2 separate regions of the Homo sapiens genome follow, and region 2 is linked to region 1. Evidence: fine-mapped expression QTL. A gene starts in region 1. The other region holds a variant in brackets. All regions are shown on one strand. Distances are from middle to middle.

Region 1 (8,336 bases):
CTACTTATCTCACAGAATTATTGTTCAGGTTGTGAAAGTATTTTCTTTCTTTCTTTTCTTTTTTTTGAGACAGGGTCTCATGCTGTTGCCCAGGCTGGAATGTAGTGGTGCAATTATGGTTCACTGCAGTCTCAAACTCCTGGACTCAAGTGATTCTCCTGCCTCAGCCTCCTGAGTAGCTGGGACTACAGGTGTTTGCAACCAGGCCCAGTTAATTTTTTTCTATTTTTTTGTAGAGATGAGGGTCTCACTATGTTGTCCAGGCTGGTCACAAACTCCTGGGGCTCAAGTGGTCCTCCTGCCTCAGCCTCTAAAAGCACTATGATTATAGGTGTAAGCCACCATGCCTGGCCTGTGAAAGTATTTTATTTTTAAGTTATGAACACTAGATAAATTTCAGACATACTATTACTTAGGCAATTAGATAATGACCTGCTGCTAGTCTGGGGTCAGGATAGGGAGGTGAAGCAGGGACCAGTATCTGGAACGTTTGGATTTAAAAAGTAGGATTATTGAAAATGGATTAAAGACTTAAATGTAAAACCCCAAACCATAAAAACCCTAGAAGAAAATCTAGGCAATACCATTCAGGACATAGGCATGGGCAAAGACTTCATGACTAAAACACCAAAAGCAATTGCAACAAAAGCCAAAATTGACAAATGGGATCTAATCCAACTAAAGAGCTTCTGCACAGCAAAAGAAACTATCATCAGAGTGAACAGGCAACCTACAGAATGGGAGAAAGTTTTGCAATCTACCCATCCGACAAAGGTCTAATGTCCAGAATCTACAAGGAACTTAGACAAATTTACAAGAAAAAAACAAACAACCCCATCAAAAAGTGGGCAAAGGATATGAACAGACACTTCTCAAAAGAAGACATTTATGCAGCCAATAAACATATGAAAAAAAGTTCATCATCATTGGTCATTAGAGAAATGCAAATCAAAACCACAGTGAGATACCACCTCACGCCAGTGAGAATGGTGATTATTAAAAAGTCAGGAAACAACAGATTCTGCCAAGGCTATGGAGAAATAGGAATGCTTTTACACTGTTGGTGGGAGTGTAAATTAGTTCAACCATTGTGGAAGACACTGTGGCGATTCCTCAAGGATCTAGAACCAAAATACCATTTGACCCAGCAATCCCATTACTGGGTATATACCCAAAGGATTATAAATCATTCTACTATAAAGACACATGCACATGTATGTTTATTGCAGTGCTATTTACAATAGCAAAGACTTGGAACCAACCCAAATGCCATCGATGATAGACTGGATAAAGACAATGTGGCACATATACACCATGGAATACTATGCAGCCATAAAAAAGAATGAGTTCATGTCATTTGCAGGGACATGGATGAAGCTGGGAGCCATCATTCTAAGCAAAGTAACACAACAGAAAACCAAACTCTGCATATTCTCACTTATAAGTGGGAGTTGAACGATGAGAACACATGGACACAGGGAGGGTAATATCACATACTGGGGCCTGTCGGGGCGTGGGGGAAAGGGGAGGGAGAGCATTAGGACAAATATCTAATGAATGCAGGGCTTAAAACCTAGATGACGGGTTGATAGATGCAGTAAACCACCATGTTTACTGTAACCACCATGTTACATAGGTATACATAGGCACATGTATACCTATGTAACAAACCTGCATGTTCTGCACATGTATCCCAGAACTTAAAGTTAAAAAAAAAATAGTAGGATTACTAAAAAAGCAGGATTACTGGCGGTTGGCAGAGGCCTTTTCTTGAGCTCAGGAATGGATGATGCCACTGAAAGAGCAGATGTGGAAATAAATTCTGGAAATGTTTCGCATACCACTTGTAATGCTGTTTTTAAGATAATTGCTTGGGTAAATAAATTCCTTATACATTGACTAGTAAAGAGATACTCAACTTTGTACATTTGATGCCATATTCACTTGCTGTCTAACTTATGTTACCATGGCATTAATTTAGTATAAATAAAAATGCTCTAGGTCTACTCAGTGCTGAGCCTTGAAATCTCAGCACTCAACATCTCTTATCCACTAAAGCACACACTGTTGTTTACACGTGGAAGACTGACTATGCAGCCAGTCTAGTAAGCAAGCAAGCAAGCAAGCAAGCAGGGTCCTAGATATTAAAAATGACCATTCCTGTAAACCATCAAGCCACAAATCAACAAGCTTAATCACAAAAGTTTCTTGAGGGAACAAAGTTGAAGTAATATCCATTGAGTCATTGTGGAACTATCTGTACTTGTGGTTGATTAGCCAGGTAAGCTGGTTTTTCCTCAGTTTCCTCACCTGTTAAACAAGAGGCAGAATGATGTTCTCTCTAAAACACTTCTTGCTTTGAAATACTATTACTCTAAATAAGACTTTGGAGAAACTCACAAAATACATCCTTGTTAACTCTCAATAAGCCCAAACAATATTCCAGGACCCCACAAAACCAGAAAACTAACAGGACCCCTTGTAGACCAGTCTCTTTGTGCAACGTAGGGAGAAAGGGCGGGGGGGACTAAAGAACCTCCCAAAAGGTATTAAAAATAGCAACATGTAATTATGAAAAATCTTGTTCCACATTAGGTAGCCACATTCAAGAAAAACTGTTGGAGATCTACTATGTCCAAGGCACGGTTTAAGTTATTACTGTTCAATTTTGAAATTATTATTGTTAACTTGTCAGTAATTTCTTAAACCTAAACTGGTGAAACTCTCCTTGGGTGGACATAAAAGTAAAGCCATGGCCAAGGAGGGAGACAGTCTACAAATAAACCAAAAATAAAATACAAGTGACATCATTAAAGGAAAAAAGCCAACACACTGCACAAAGATCAAAGACAAAACAGAGAAACATGTTTGGTTAATACTGGGCTTTGAGTATTTCATGTGCCTGAGAGGCCCGTCCGTCCATCCACACCACACTTCTTCACCATGCTGTTGCAAACCAATGACAAGTTCAGCTTCAGCGCGGACAGGGCGCAGGGCGCAGACCCTGTGCATATCCCAGAATCCCGGACCCACTGCCACTCCACTCTGGGAAGGAAGAAGGCGCTCCCCCTTGGGTGACTGTAAGATAAAGCAGCTTCTTCGATCTCTTTGTCCAATAAGAAAGAAACGTTGGCCCATAAAGAAAGAAAGAAACAAATAAATAGGAAAGGTGTGAGAAGGAAGGGAAGCTCCTTTCTTTTCTGTTTAAATTTCCCGCACCCTTTTACCTCCCCGCCTTCTCAAACGGTCTTTACTTTGAGCAGCAGAGACCCGGACCGCTCAATACCCGGCTATCCCTGGGAGGGTACTTGGAAAGTAGGCGGGACAGGCCGGATGAATAATTCGGTGTCCGACTTTTCCTGCCTGCGGCGCAGTCCCTCCCCGGCTTCGTTACTCGAGTGCACACGCGGCCGGGCTCTCGGCCCTCGATTGCTTCAGCCTATCACCCTGGGATGCCGCCTGCCGCTGCCGCCGCCGCCGCCGCCGCCACCGCCACCGCCACCGCCACCGCCACCGCCGTGGCTGCCGGGTTTGTGGGATCCGCCGCGGAGCAGGAGCCAGAGCTGTGGCCGGAGCTGTGGCCTGAGAGTCAGGGGGCGGGCAGGCTCATTCCAGAAGTGGGGGCCGAGGACAGGCGGGCTAGAACCCGGGGCCACCGCCCCCTACCCCTCCTCAGGCTGAGGGAACGGGCACTCGGAGCTTCTGAGGCGGCGGCGGCGGGAGCCGGTCAGAGGGGGCGGCCCCTGGCGGCGACGCCCCCAAGCCCAGCCCTGCCCGGCCCCGCTCCATCCCCAGCCAGAGCCTGGTCTGACCGCGAGAGACGCCGGCGGGGCTGAAGAAGGCGGCTCCGAGGAGGTGGGAGGGCGAGCCTCCCCTCCCGGGTTCTTCTGCGTCCTCTCCCGGGAGGGACCCACACACACCTGAGCCCGGACCCACCCTTGGTCGGGGCCACGCTGGATCCTCCTCCCGGCCTGGGTCCCGCCCGCCGACTGCAGGTGGGCTGCATCGCCCGAGCCTCGGGCAGTGGGCGACGGGGAAGGAGGTGAGAGGTGTCCGCGCCGGCTGCCGCTCGGGTCCCTGCCCTCGCTGCGCGCTCTCCTCCTCCCCTTACCGCAGGCAGGGCGCGGAGCCGCGCGCCAGCCCGCCCCGAAGCCGCCGCCTCGTCCCCCTCCCGCCTCGGGGCACCATGGAGCTCTCTCCGTCGTCCGGAGGAGCCGCGGAGGCGCTGTCCTGGCCGGAGATGTTCCCGGCGCTGGAGTCCGACTCGCCGCTGCCCCCGGAGGACCTGGACGCGGTTGTCCCAGTCAGTGGAGCCGTCGCCGGTGGCATGTTGGATCGGATCCTTCTGGAGTCCGTGTGCCAGCAACAGAGCTGGGTCCGGGTGTACGGTAAGGACCACAGGCCGTCTTAGAGGCTGGTGTTTCCTATTTTTGCTTGGGCTGAAATTCATTCCCTAAGTCACAGGCTCATTCCCAGTCCTCATCCGTGCTAGGTCAGTTTCCCACATCCCTTTTTGTTCTGGGGGTGCATTTCTGACAAGTTTCTTCAGACTATCACTTGGGCAGGGATGTCACTCAGTATGGTCTTTGGACCTCTTCAGACACCTGCAGTAAGTTTAATGCGGGAGTTGGGCTATCCAAGACGTAATTCTTAGGCGATTACTTCAAGGGAACAGCCAGGCAATCAATCTTCAAGAAGGTATGATGGAAAAACTCCATGAAACCAAGTGAATGGATTTTCGTCTCTTTTTATTGTTGAATGAGGCAAGACTGGAAACCAAGATATTATGAAAAAGCAGAGGATAAGCTAATGAATGAAAAAAATGCAAACTATGTATTTGGTGGGAGCAAGACTAATCTATAACCTCTGCCTGAACCTCACTCTCTCTAAAAGCAACCACTTATTCCAACGGGTGTGGATTGTTTCAGATTACACTATTGTTTCTGAATCTCGTTGTAAAGTGACTGGGTTGCCACTCAGCAGGTTAAAAGTGATGAACACACTAAAACTTTCCCTTTCTGCATTCCTGGTAACCACCTCTTTAATTAAAACTGAATGATGAGATTCTATTAGGGTGAGCCTTGTGGCAGCACTAAAACCATGCTGGTTTTGAAAACTCATAGCTTAAGGATTTATAGCCTGGCATTCAGGACTGAGCTGTGGCTTTCCAAAATATTGAAACGGCAAGATGTTTATCGCCTAGCTCACGTGACTGCAGAAGACATTAGTAACGTGGCTGAGTATAAGATGGCAAATTTGAAGCACCTGGGATCAAACACAATGTTAAGATGTTATCCTGCAGTCTTGTGCATCTAAGCCTGTAGTGATCAAGTACCTTATGTTTTTTTCTTTCATCTTTCTGAACAGGGTATATGCTTACTATTCAAGAGTGACCAAGACTTAGGTTTTTTTCTGTGTAGTTCAGTTGATTTGAAGACTTAATGTCCATCGCAAAGATCATAGAACTAGGAGTCCAGAGATCTCAGTTCTTGTCTCAGTTCTACCACTAAATGGCTATGGGATTTGGGGCAGATCGAGTCACATTTTTGGCTTGTGATTCCTCATCTGTAAAGTGAGTGGATTGGATTAAATCATCACTAGTGACCCTTTTAATCATAAAAATCCAGGAATTCTTCTTATAACCAGTTCTTAAGGATTTGTGTACCACTTTGTATTTTGCTGGCTGTTTCTTGATGTTACTCTACGTACCGGAAGATTTAAAGCAAAGGAGTGGGAGACGATGCAAGGTCACCCAGTTTGTTCTCAGCAAATTAGATTAAAAACTTTGGTGCCTGATTTTCCGTCTGCCTGCTAAATCCCACTTAGCTGGTCATTTAGAACAAAGGTTGGTGAGAATCTGAAAGTGCATATGAATTAGAGTATATTGTAGTTACAACGTTTTCCCATTCTATCATCTTTCTCTCCTTACACACTTCTTTGGCATACTGTTTATTTGTGTGATGTTAGAAATAGGGCCATGCTATTCTAAGAATACATGTATATGATAATTCGGTATTTCAGTATCCAAAACAATCTGGGTTCTCTGGACCTAGTGTTAACTATCGTTCTTCATTTGTAAGGACATAAAAGTCTACAAATGTATGTTGTTTTGTAGTCCATTCCTAGGGGTTGATTTGTGAAATATATATTGTATATTTTGTGTGTGTGTGTGTGTGTGTGTAAGAGAGAGAGAGAGTGAGAGCAAGTTTACATTATGTTTTTTTTCTTTCGTCCTTCTGAACAGGATATATGTTTATTGTTCAAGAGTGACCACGACTTAGAAGTTTTCTTTCTGCGTGGTTCAATTGATGTCAAGACTTCATATCAGACATCACAGAAATGCATGGTATGTATATGTGTGTGACACACACATATACATACCATGCCTTGCATTTTTGTGACCAATTGCAGACTTACCACTGCATTGTAACTTTTTTTGTTTTCTCTATCAATTAACCAGAAGTTGTTTTTATTTATTGTTTAGTATTGCTACTTTCCTTCCTCTGAGGCAGCTCATCCTGGATACTATTTTGTTGTCTTTAGTTTATGTAAATATTTCAGAACTATTGGAATGACTCTTGGCTATGTCCTTAGCTAGTTTTAAGTTGCCTATTGTATGAACAGGGTGTATGTTTGAAAACTTTGAAGTAAAAACTTTGAAATAAAAGTAATAGAATGTAGAAAAACAATTTGGAGAATACAGAATTTTTGTTTTTCTTGTTTCTTGTCTGTGTGTTCAAAACCTTCGTTGTCTTGGATCACCTAGGTTCTTCTCACAATTTAAAGAGACTTTGATGAGTGTAGTCTAACATGTTTCAGGGAAATCTACAAATTGGGAACCTAGTCTAGAGGATACAACTAGAAGCTTAGAGTATTGGTTTCATTCTGGCTTTGCCACAAGTTGGTTGTCTAATTCTGGGCAGGTAGTTTTAACTCATGGCCTCTAGGTTTCAGCATAAAAGTGGAATCTGGAGTAATTGGTATCTGTGGTCCCTTTTAGCTTTAAAGTTGTCTGATTCTGTGGCTTGGCCCATTATTTTACCTGCAGGTTGGCCTATAATCTTTATCCTGGCTCTTGGGGCCAGGCATTAACCAAGCCCTTAACTTAATGCATTTAAATCATGATTGTCAGGGAATTCTGGGGAGCAGTTTTATCAAAAGGTCAGTGAACTGAGTTTTCAAAGAAGATATATTGAAGGCAGATGTTTATTTATTTGGAATGTTTTCACAAGATAGGAAGATGAGTATGGCGATGTTGCTTAGGTCTAGTTCATCCAGTTTTGAGACCTAACCTACATAGCCATGTGGGTTCTAAAGGTAGGATAATAATAAGGAACTTTATTAAGTGCAATTTGCATCTCCTGCAATATACTTCTGTTTGAAATCATGATGGGAACAAACAACAACAGAAGTAACCCCCCAAAGAATATCTTAACAGGAACTTCTAGAAACAATATTTTATTAGTTTGCCTCACAAAATTTGAAGACTAGGCACTGTTTTGAGTTTCTTGTTGACAGGTTTGGCTCCTTGGTTGATAATACATATATATTGTGTACATATGTATATATTGTCATAATACGTATACTCAGGGTTTTGTGTATTGCCATGATTTGGAAAACTTTTCTGGAATATGTTCAGAGCTTTATAATAGGTGGCTCTATATTTAGAACACAAACTAATGCACATTTTTGAGATGTGGCTGAGAGAAAAATATTTGTGCTGTCTGTCCTAATCTTCATTTCCTTGTAGTTGTAAAATGTTTCATTTGTTTTATTCCAGTATTATAAGTTGTGCCCATGCCTTGTCAAGACTATAAAATTTTTGATATCAGGGAGCCTTGTTTATCTTTGTATTCTTATCTTGCCACCCCCTTCATTGTCAACTTGTCTGCCAGATTGGTACCTTGCTCATAGTAAGTCAGTGTCTGTTGTATGTTGATCCGTTTGTCCTTTGACCATCCAGATCTCAACCTGACTGACTGTATGGGTGGTAGAGTAGCTTAAACAAAGGCATGCCACAAACAGCTAAATATGGATACAGAATCCAAGAGCATCAAATGCAGAACATTTTTCAGATATTTATAGCCTCAAAGCAAAGTCAATTGGCTGAAAAAGCTCAGCAGCATAGCGAAAGGAAACGGGAGTGGCAAAGCCAGCCTCACTGTCTGTGCTTTCTGGTAAACAATGAGAACATTAAAATTAAATACTTTACCATGAATGGATGGGGAGTGTAGGACACTCTGGGAGAAATTTAAGATCCCAATCTCTAGGATTGCCTGCGGTGGAGCTCTGCACTCATCAGTATGACAGGTCTGCAAGTATGTGCTCAGATATGC
Region 2 (8,336 bases), 130 kb before region 1:
TCGGTAATCTTCGTGCCAGATATAAGGACTCCGTTGCCTTGGCACTGCACCCTCAGAGAAAACAAAATCAAGACAGGTCACTTCCTGTTTCTGAAAGTTCTTAGAAAGATATTAGTGAGCTGTGAGGAGCTCCTGGAGCACAGTAGATCTAAAAACATATTTTCCAAATTGAAAAAATAGATAGGTGAGAGCTAATAAAGAAAGTCCATAGGACGCCTCTCAGTCCCCTCTGAACTAGTTAGCATGGATCTATACAACCGCACAACGATGGGGATTGGTGTGTGTGTGTGTGTTCAATGTTGAAACAGATTTATCTTTCCTAGCAGTTCAGATGCTGCCATTAAGACACACCCTATACCTATTAGCATACGGTAGAACACTCATTTGGGTGCATATCTGCTGTCCTCAGGGTGAAGTGATACACTCTTACTATAGCCCAGCAGATGTCCTTAAGAACTGACTTCACTGTTACTTGGTCAAAGACTATATAATCTGGGCTATAAGGCAAAGTAGGAGAAAAAACATGGATGAAGTACAAACTACCCATAGTGCTAGTAACAGTACCATCATCTATGCATACAAAGGAAAACAACTCCTTTATATCTCTTCTCAGGACATCTAGGAGGAGTGTTTCTGCTATGGTCTCGTCTGGCCAAGAAAGGATGCCCAAGGTGAGGGTCTGAACATGGCTCCTTTGGTCTCTCCCCTGCCTCTCAGACCAGCTGCCCCATCCCCAAATCCCAGAGGCTTCTTGGAGACTTTTCCATACCTCTTTCTTCCTGCAGCCACTGTGGGTGTCCATGATAGTAATAACTTCCATAAGCATATTCCTCCCTCATTGTGGGAGACTGATAGCTCTGATATGAATTCTCATAACCTGGCCTAAAATATCACAAAGAAGACTGGTCAGTTGAGGACAAGGGTAGTAAAGAGAGAAACCAATGAAGAACTTGACAAACTAAACAGGTTCAGAGGACAGAGTTGTGACCCCAGCCTAGAATCTGCTTGAAAGCCACAGTTAATTCTAGATCCTGTAAACAGAATCAAAGCAGGAGTCAGGCCTTTGTTGCACAACAGGAGTAGAATTTTTATAGTACAATTTTTTTTACTTAAAACTCTTTTTCTAAAAACCTCTTTTTTATTTAAAACTCTTTTATTTTGTAGTAAAACTCTCACTCCCCAAACACATACATATTATCTTAGAAAACTCCATCCTGATATTATCTGAGAAAACCACTTCCTGAGATGACTGTGTTAAGTCTCCAATACACCACCGTAATTTCCATGCTTATCCCAGATGGAGTTGAGATTTAAAAGTCAAACTGGACTATGTTAAGTCTGATTACTTTTATTGCCTCTGTCCTGAACACGCCTCTCTTTGAGAATTCAACAATCCAAAAAGACTGGGGAGAGGAACATCATAATATTAATGTTTTTATCAATTAATAATTTTTTTTTTTGAGACAGAGCCTCACTCTGTCACCCAGGCTGGAGTGCAGTGGCGTGATCTTGGCTCACTGCAACCTCCATCTCCCGGGTTTAAGTGATTCTCCCGTCTCTACCCAGGTAGCTGGGATTACAGGCATGCACCACCGCGCCCAGCTAATTTTTTTGTTTTGTTTTGTATTTTTAGTAGAGGCGGGGTTTCACCATGTTGACCAGGCTGGTCTCGAACTCCCAACCTCAGATGATCTGCCTGCCTTGGCCTCCCAAAGTGCTGGGATTACAGGCGTGATCCAGGAGCCTGGCCCAATTAGCAATTCTTTAGTATTTCTTAGGGATAAATTTCTTTATAATAATTGTCATAATTTCAACCCTGAATCTGTAAGCAGGTAAATATCACCCCAACTGGAAAAGCTGAAGTAGAACATAGACGGCTTCCAACATTCCATGAAATATTAAGTCCAGTGCTTACAGACCAGGGAAGCAGGAATTCCAGATTCTCCAACCTGGATAGAATGACCTCACTGCAACCTCTTCCTTCCGAACTTGGAGCCTGCAGGTTTCTATCTGCTTTCCCTGAGGTCAATTTTTTTTAAGTTCCCATTCATTCAATACAGATTATTGGTATGCCTGTTCCATTCCGGGTACTGTCGTAGGCACTAGGACTCTTCTTGGTGCTGGTAGTGTCATGCTAATCCCAAGGTAGAGTGGTCCAATGACAACGAGGAACTCCTTATAGGGATCTCCAAGAAAAGCTTTTCCATAGTCTACATAAATGAACTTTTGCAATCCCAGAGCAAGAGGGTTCCATCTGCTGTCTTGAATTTCACCACTTTTTCTACCCTTGACACTGCCTCCCCAAGCCCCCATACCCAGTGGCATTTGTGATGGCTTCTTTAAGAAGCTCCACTAGGGGAAAAACAGGAGAGAAATACTATCTTCAGTCATCAAAAACAAATTTGGGAGAGGACAGGATTTAGCTAAAGCCACGTAGTAAGGTAGAGAAGGAAAAAGAAAAAAGGGGGAGAAAAATAAAAGGAAAAGGAAGAAGGAAAAGAACAACCTATTCATACGCATTTAGGAGAGTTGCATTCATTCCAAGCCCTAAAGCCATACCTTGAATACAACTGATTGCGATAACCACCTTCGTAATAGTCAACTCCAGACACAGGCTGATGCCAGTCCCCTGGCCTGGATGCATAATGGGGCTGCTGCTGATGGTCTGCCCTGGGCTCCTGCTGTGGCTGGGGGCTCCCACGGTTGTCTTGCCATTGGTGAAACCTCTCTCCATTGTGCCAAGAGTGAGGGACAGGCCGATGATGTCCATCTCTCCGAAACCCTCGGTCTGGATCCTTTGAGGGTGCTGTGGCCTTCCCTCGTGTCTGGGGCAGCCTCTGGGGAGCCCAAAGTTCCATCCTTGACTCTCTGAATTTGTCCTGGGTTTTGAGTAAGTTGTGCAGTTATTTTATCTTCCTGCAGACAAAAGAAAAAGGAAAAAATCATCACTTGAAGCCTATATCCAAACATAGTGGTTGATTAGGTTTTGTGAAAAGAGCAGCTATGGTCCTCGAAATATATCTAAAACAAACCATATGGTCACGGATACAGAGAAATCTGAGAAACAATCTCAGATACATGAAGCAAATAACAGACTAGACAATTATATTAATATTGCTTAAAAAATTAAAAAGTACATGTGGAACAACGACAGATGAGGGAGGCAAGGGAGACAGATAACAATAATAGGTACAGCTAAAAATGCTATCAAGGAATCCCAGTTGATGTTTCTTCACATATTCCCCCAGCAAGTGTTTATTTAACACTTACAGCGGAGGCCCTGTGGTATCATAAACAGAGTGGGTCTTGCAGAGAGCTAGATCAGAGTTCAAATCCTAACTCTGCCACTTAACTAGCTAGTTCATTTTTTCAAGCCTCAATTTCCTTACCCATGAAATGGAGACTGTAAGGACTACCTTGCAAGGTTATTGACAGAGTTAAAGATAACCTATGCGAAGTGCGTAACATGTTACCTAACATGTTAAAATGCTCAATAAATAGCAGTGTTATCAAGGATAAAGATTAGGGTAGTATGAGTGGCTGAAGATGTTTATTAAACAAAAAGAAATTTAGACTGACCTTTTCAAGAAGCACCTTTTCTGAATCCTTACATTAACCCCCTCAAAGAACTAGAACCTATATAATATGGTCATACCTGCTCCTCCTCCAGAGGAGCCAACAAGAGGCAAATTTGGGATTGTTTTCATAAGAAAATAGAAGGCCATATCTCAGGATTCTTCCCGGTTGGAGATTTTAAATGCTGAAAGTCTCCCTAGCATCAAACTAATTTTCCCCCACGTAATCCTGAAAAAGGGAAATTGCTCCAAGGACTGATTACCTTCCAGGTTCCTCTGCCCATTGCACGGGGTAGCGGGGGACAGGGGTTGCACCCACAAAAGGAAAGCACGCCTCAGATCTTACTCTTGCTCAGGGATTCCTTGTGTCAGGAGCATCCACAGGCTAGGTCGGCCTCGATTTTTTTCTTCCTTAGGAACTGTTTTAGGTTGCAAGATTCTGATCAAATCAGTTAACTTGTTTCCACTACTGAAGGTCCCAGCCTCATATAAAAATTCATATCAGAACAAAAGGTCAAAAGAGTGGGTGTTGAAATTGAGACGTCACTCTGCTCAAACACCAGGGAGCCGAGGTCGACAGCTATGAGCCAAGAGCTATGAGAC[G/A]GCAGAACACACAAGAAGAACAAGGTGCGGAGGGGGCCTCCCACCTCAAGGTCACTCACAACTCAGGGGAACCTCTGGCTTCCTTCCCATATCATCTCACTCCCTTGAAAAAGCCAGGTGCAATGACAGCCTTTGCCAGCAAATCCCAGGAAAGGCCAAATGTCCCAGACACAGGGAAGGGCACATGAGCCTTTTCTGAAGGCTGGTGGAACTCAAAACCATTTGGACCAAGTAAGCAGAATGAGAAGAAACCTGCTTTCTCCTTGTCCCCAGATAGTCTCATTAGGCAGCCCTTTCCCAACTGCAAAGGTGCAACACCCAATCTTTCCACTGAAATCACATCATTTTGCTGCCAAGAGACATCAACTCCAGCAAATCAGTCCTCAGATTAAGGACACCAAATAAATAACACCTTCGATTCTCAAAATGAAGGAATTACATCTATGATGACAAATCAGACTCACACATTCATGTAGATGACCTTTCCTAGCCCCAGTAAAGGCAATCTTGCCTTTCCTAATCTGACGGCACAGCACGTCCAGCTCAAAGAGGGGAAAGAAGGGAGCGAGTGTTCCCACACACCTGCTCTGATGGCTTCCCACCTTCCTTCAGCGCTGCTCCAGGGACCTGGCCCAAGAGTGCCTCCTCTCCTCTTGGAGACTGTCAAAGTCCAGGTGCCACATCTACCAAGACTCCCCAGGCCCTCAGATCTACATCATGTCAGTTACCTTTGCAACTGCCCAACCTCCATGGAGCTGATTCATTAGGGCAAAGTACAGCCCAGATACCGCAGCCCAGGACCCGCCTGACTTGACGAATTTGCTCAGAACCCTGTCAGAGACTGGCGCTTCTGTTTGCCTGAGCATGGGCTGAGCCAGGTTCACTCACATGAGAAATCATCCAAATTCCCACAGCAATCACGGAAGAGAGACATCAGGAAGAGGAAGTCCAGAAGCCCCAAGGCAGCCTGGTCTGGCGAGAAAAGCACCACCTTTGGGGTGTTAACTCGGGGCTCTACCACTAGCTGGTTCTGTTACTTAACCTCTCCGAGTTTCAGTTTCTTTTTCTTTAAAATGGGAATGGCAATGCTTAGCTTATGAGGGTCATTACGGGGCTGAAATGTTGGTAAAGCAGCACATGATATATAGGTAAGTATGCCCTGCAGATCAATATTATCTTTTCCTTCCCAAAGAGACAAGTTAATTCCACTGGTTGAGGCACATGGGGAAGGGGACACGCTCACTGGTGGGAGCAAACACCTGGTTTGCCCAGTGTGGGTTTTTCTTATGTATATTTCTCACCATTGGGTTCTGGTTATGTAATAAATTCTGTCATCTAGCTGGAAGGCAGATTTATATCCCCAGTACTGAACTGAAGGCACTAAAAAGTTTTCCATTATAACAAGAAAGTAGTTTCTCGCACTTGAAATATACATTTCTTCTGCATTATTAAGGTAAACGCAGAAAAGCACATGACTACTTCTGAATTAATATTTTAAAATTCTGAATTTGCTCTTTTAAAAAATCCCAAATGGTTTATTCTTTCTCTCAACAAATGCTTACTGTGTTCCTATTAAGGGCCAGGATTTGACACACATAAATATAAAAGACACAAATTAGTCTCTCATGTCTGTCCTTACTAGTCCAGGGAAAACCACCCCTCTTGGGTCTCATGGTCATATAGGGTCATGTACCTAAGCTACAAGATTTTCTCTCAGCCCCTCAGCTGACTCTAGAACCCAGCAACTGAGCATAGAATTCTCTGACTGTAGCTAATGGTTTCTTTTTTTTTTTTTCCAAGACAGAGTCTTTCTCTGTCGCCCAGAGATGGAGTTTAATGGTACAATCTCAGCTCACTGCAACCTCTACCTCCCAGGTTCAAGCAATTCTCCTGCCTCAGCCTCCCGAGTAGCTGGGATTACAGGTGCGTGCCACCACCCCTGGCTAATTTTTGTATTTTTAGTAAAGAAGGGGTTTCATCATGTTGGCCAGGCTGGTCTCAAACTCCTGACCTTGTGATCCACCTGCCTGAGCCTCCCAAAGTGCTGGGATTACAGGCGTAAGCCACCATGCCTAGCCACTAATGGTTTCTTACCTCACTCTTGGGCTGTGAAGTTTGGCTCTCTAATGGCTGCACTGTTGTTTTTAATCCTTCTGGGAAGAGGAACTAGAGAAGAACATGCACATTAACAGCAGGAATCAGAATGTGGGTGATGATTACACTGACGTGATATCAAATTATATGTTCTGATATATCACAACAACATTCACAAAAGTTCTTGATGTCACTCTTTTGGCATATAATGTGACATTAGTCTTGCCCTGTAACACCAGCTGCATTATGGGAATGTTAACTTTGAAAAGGACCTTAGAGGTTATTTTAGCAACTATGCTTTTTTGATGATAAAACCAAGATCCAAACAAGTGAAATGATTTACCCAAGATCACAAAGTTACCTAGAAGTTCAGTGAAAATTACACTGGTGTGCTCTAGCTGCCTTGCACACCAGTGCAAGTTTAGTAAGAGCTGATTATTAAATATTCAGGAATTGTGTGAGCCGGTTGTTAAACCATGGAAAACTTGAAATCCACCATGGTGGGAGTATTTACACCACAGAAATTGGCAACTGCTACAAAGCAAGGTTGTTGGTGGGTTGCTGGTTTATTTCAGAGAACCTGTTTAGCAGCATACTGATTTGAACCCCAAACTCTTACTTCCTGATTCAGCATTCTTGCAATTATAGAATTGTCATTCTGTTACTAGCCTTCATTGCACAACCCTGGCTTAAACATCTAGTCAAATTATTCTAAATGCTTATTTTGTGACATCCCAAAGTATCTCTAATTATCTCTAGAGTTATTATGAAACTCTTCAAACACTCACCAACCAAAATTAATTCTAATTAGCTTTAATTATTCTATATAGACATATGGCATACAACAGTTATATGGGTCACAAAATTAACTAGATTGTGATGGGATCTCACCACTCCAAAGGGTTTAGGATTTATCATTTCCTACCTTCCCAGCCCCACATAACTACAATTACTAAGTCTTTCGACCTGGCAGCTCAATTCTTCCTGATTTCTAAACCAAATTGACCCAGTTTGACAATACATTAGGAGCTCAATCCCCACCAGGAGGTGGACCAGAATGAGTCTTGCCACCCCAAGTCCTGGCTGCAGTGTTCTTGGATAATCCAGTAGGCTCCCTCATGCCCAAATGGCTACAGTCTTCACATCATCCTGCCCCAAGTGCTCTGTCCTCATACTTGATTCCTGCCCTGCATCCCAACTATGCACCAGGATTGGAGTCCTAGAAGTTTACTAATTTATGTGAATTTCCTTTCCCAGTCTCCATCCTCCTTTCCAAATGCCGGACAGCACTGTCTAGGGTCTAGCTTCAAACAAGAGTAACTGCCTGCTGTGAACTGAATGTCTGTTTCCTCCCAAAATTCATATGTTGAAAACCTAACTCCCAATGTGATGGTATTAGGAGGTAGGCCTCCAAGAAGTAATTAGGGCATGAGAGTGGAGCCTTGTCAATGGAATTAGTTCCCTTATAAAAAGACACAAGAGGGTTTGCTTCTCCTCTCTCTCTCTGCTCTCTGGTGTGTAAGAATACAACCAAAAGATGGCCATCTGCAAACCAGGAAGTGGCCCTCACCAGACACCAGATCTGCTGGAATCTTGATCTTGGACTTCCCAGCCTCCAGAAGGGTGAGAAATAAATTTCTGTTGTTTAAGCCCTAGTCTATGGTTTTCTGTTACAGTAACCCAAACTGACTAAGACACTACCCTAGTTTGACACCTGTCTAGCAAAAGTATTATCACTGTTAATGATGCTGCTAATGTTTAGCCACCGGATTAGTGCTGATGGATGTGAACACCCACCTAGATCTAGGTCAGGTTTGCCAGGAATCCTTGAGCACTGTGATTTAATGACTGGTTACTCTTGCAAAGGGCAGCTCAGCATTTAAGACATCCCTCAGGCTTCATCCTAATCCTTTACTGAAAGTAAAAATTTAGAAAACAAGTTGAGAAGATCTACATCAACGTGTTATCAGTAGTTATCCACCAGGTAATGGAATGGTGGATGATTTTATTTTCTTCCTCTTGCTTATCCATATTTTCTAACTTTTCTACAATAAATGTATATTA

Direction of the effects. Alleles are on the strand shown, and positions count from the first base shown. SD is a standard deviation of normalised expression in the study named.
As copies of G replace A in region 2, the expression in tibial nerve of the gene that starts at base 3,798 in region 1 goes down (small effect, 0.20 SD a copy in GTEx).

Evidence for each region. PIP is the estimated chance that this variant, and not a neighbour inherited with it, causes the effect.
Region 2: its variant is fine-mapped to the expression of RASAL2 in tibial nerve (GTEx, PIP 0.96).

Annotation. Positions count from the first base shown.
Region 1 is chr1:178,090,307-178,098,642 of GRCh38, forward strand. RASAL2 (RAS protein activator like 2) reads left to right here and starts at 3,798. Exons shown (of 18, transcript NM_170692.4): 1 at 3,798-4,388. The coding sequence starts at 4,187. RASAL2-AS1 (RASAL2 antisense RNA 1) reads right to left here and starts at 3,687. Exons shown (of 2, transcript NR_027982.1): 1 at 3,255-3,687; 2 at 1,202-3,106. RefSeq lists an enhancer at 3,274-3,775 and silencers at 3,397-3,446, 3,497-3,796, 3,867-4,026, 4,177-4,236.
Region 2 is chr1:177,965,124-177,973,459 of GRCh38, forward strand. CRYZL2P-SEC16B (CRYZL2P-SEC16B readthrough) reads right to left here. Exons shown (of 32, transcript NM_001356506.2): 8 at 2,560-2,916; 9 at 770-882; 10 at 1-44. The coding sequence starts at 2,858. SEC16B (SEC16 homolog B, endoplasmic reticulum export factor) reads right to left here and starts at 4,935. Exons shown (of 26, transcript NM_033127.4): 1 at 4,761-4,935; 2 at 2,560-2,916; 3 at 770-882; 4 at 1-44. The coding sequence starts at 2,858. The variant G/A (reference allele first, on the strand shown) is at 4,179.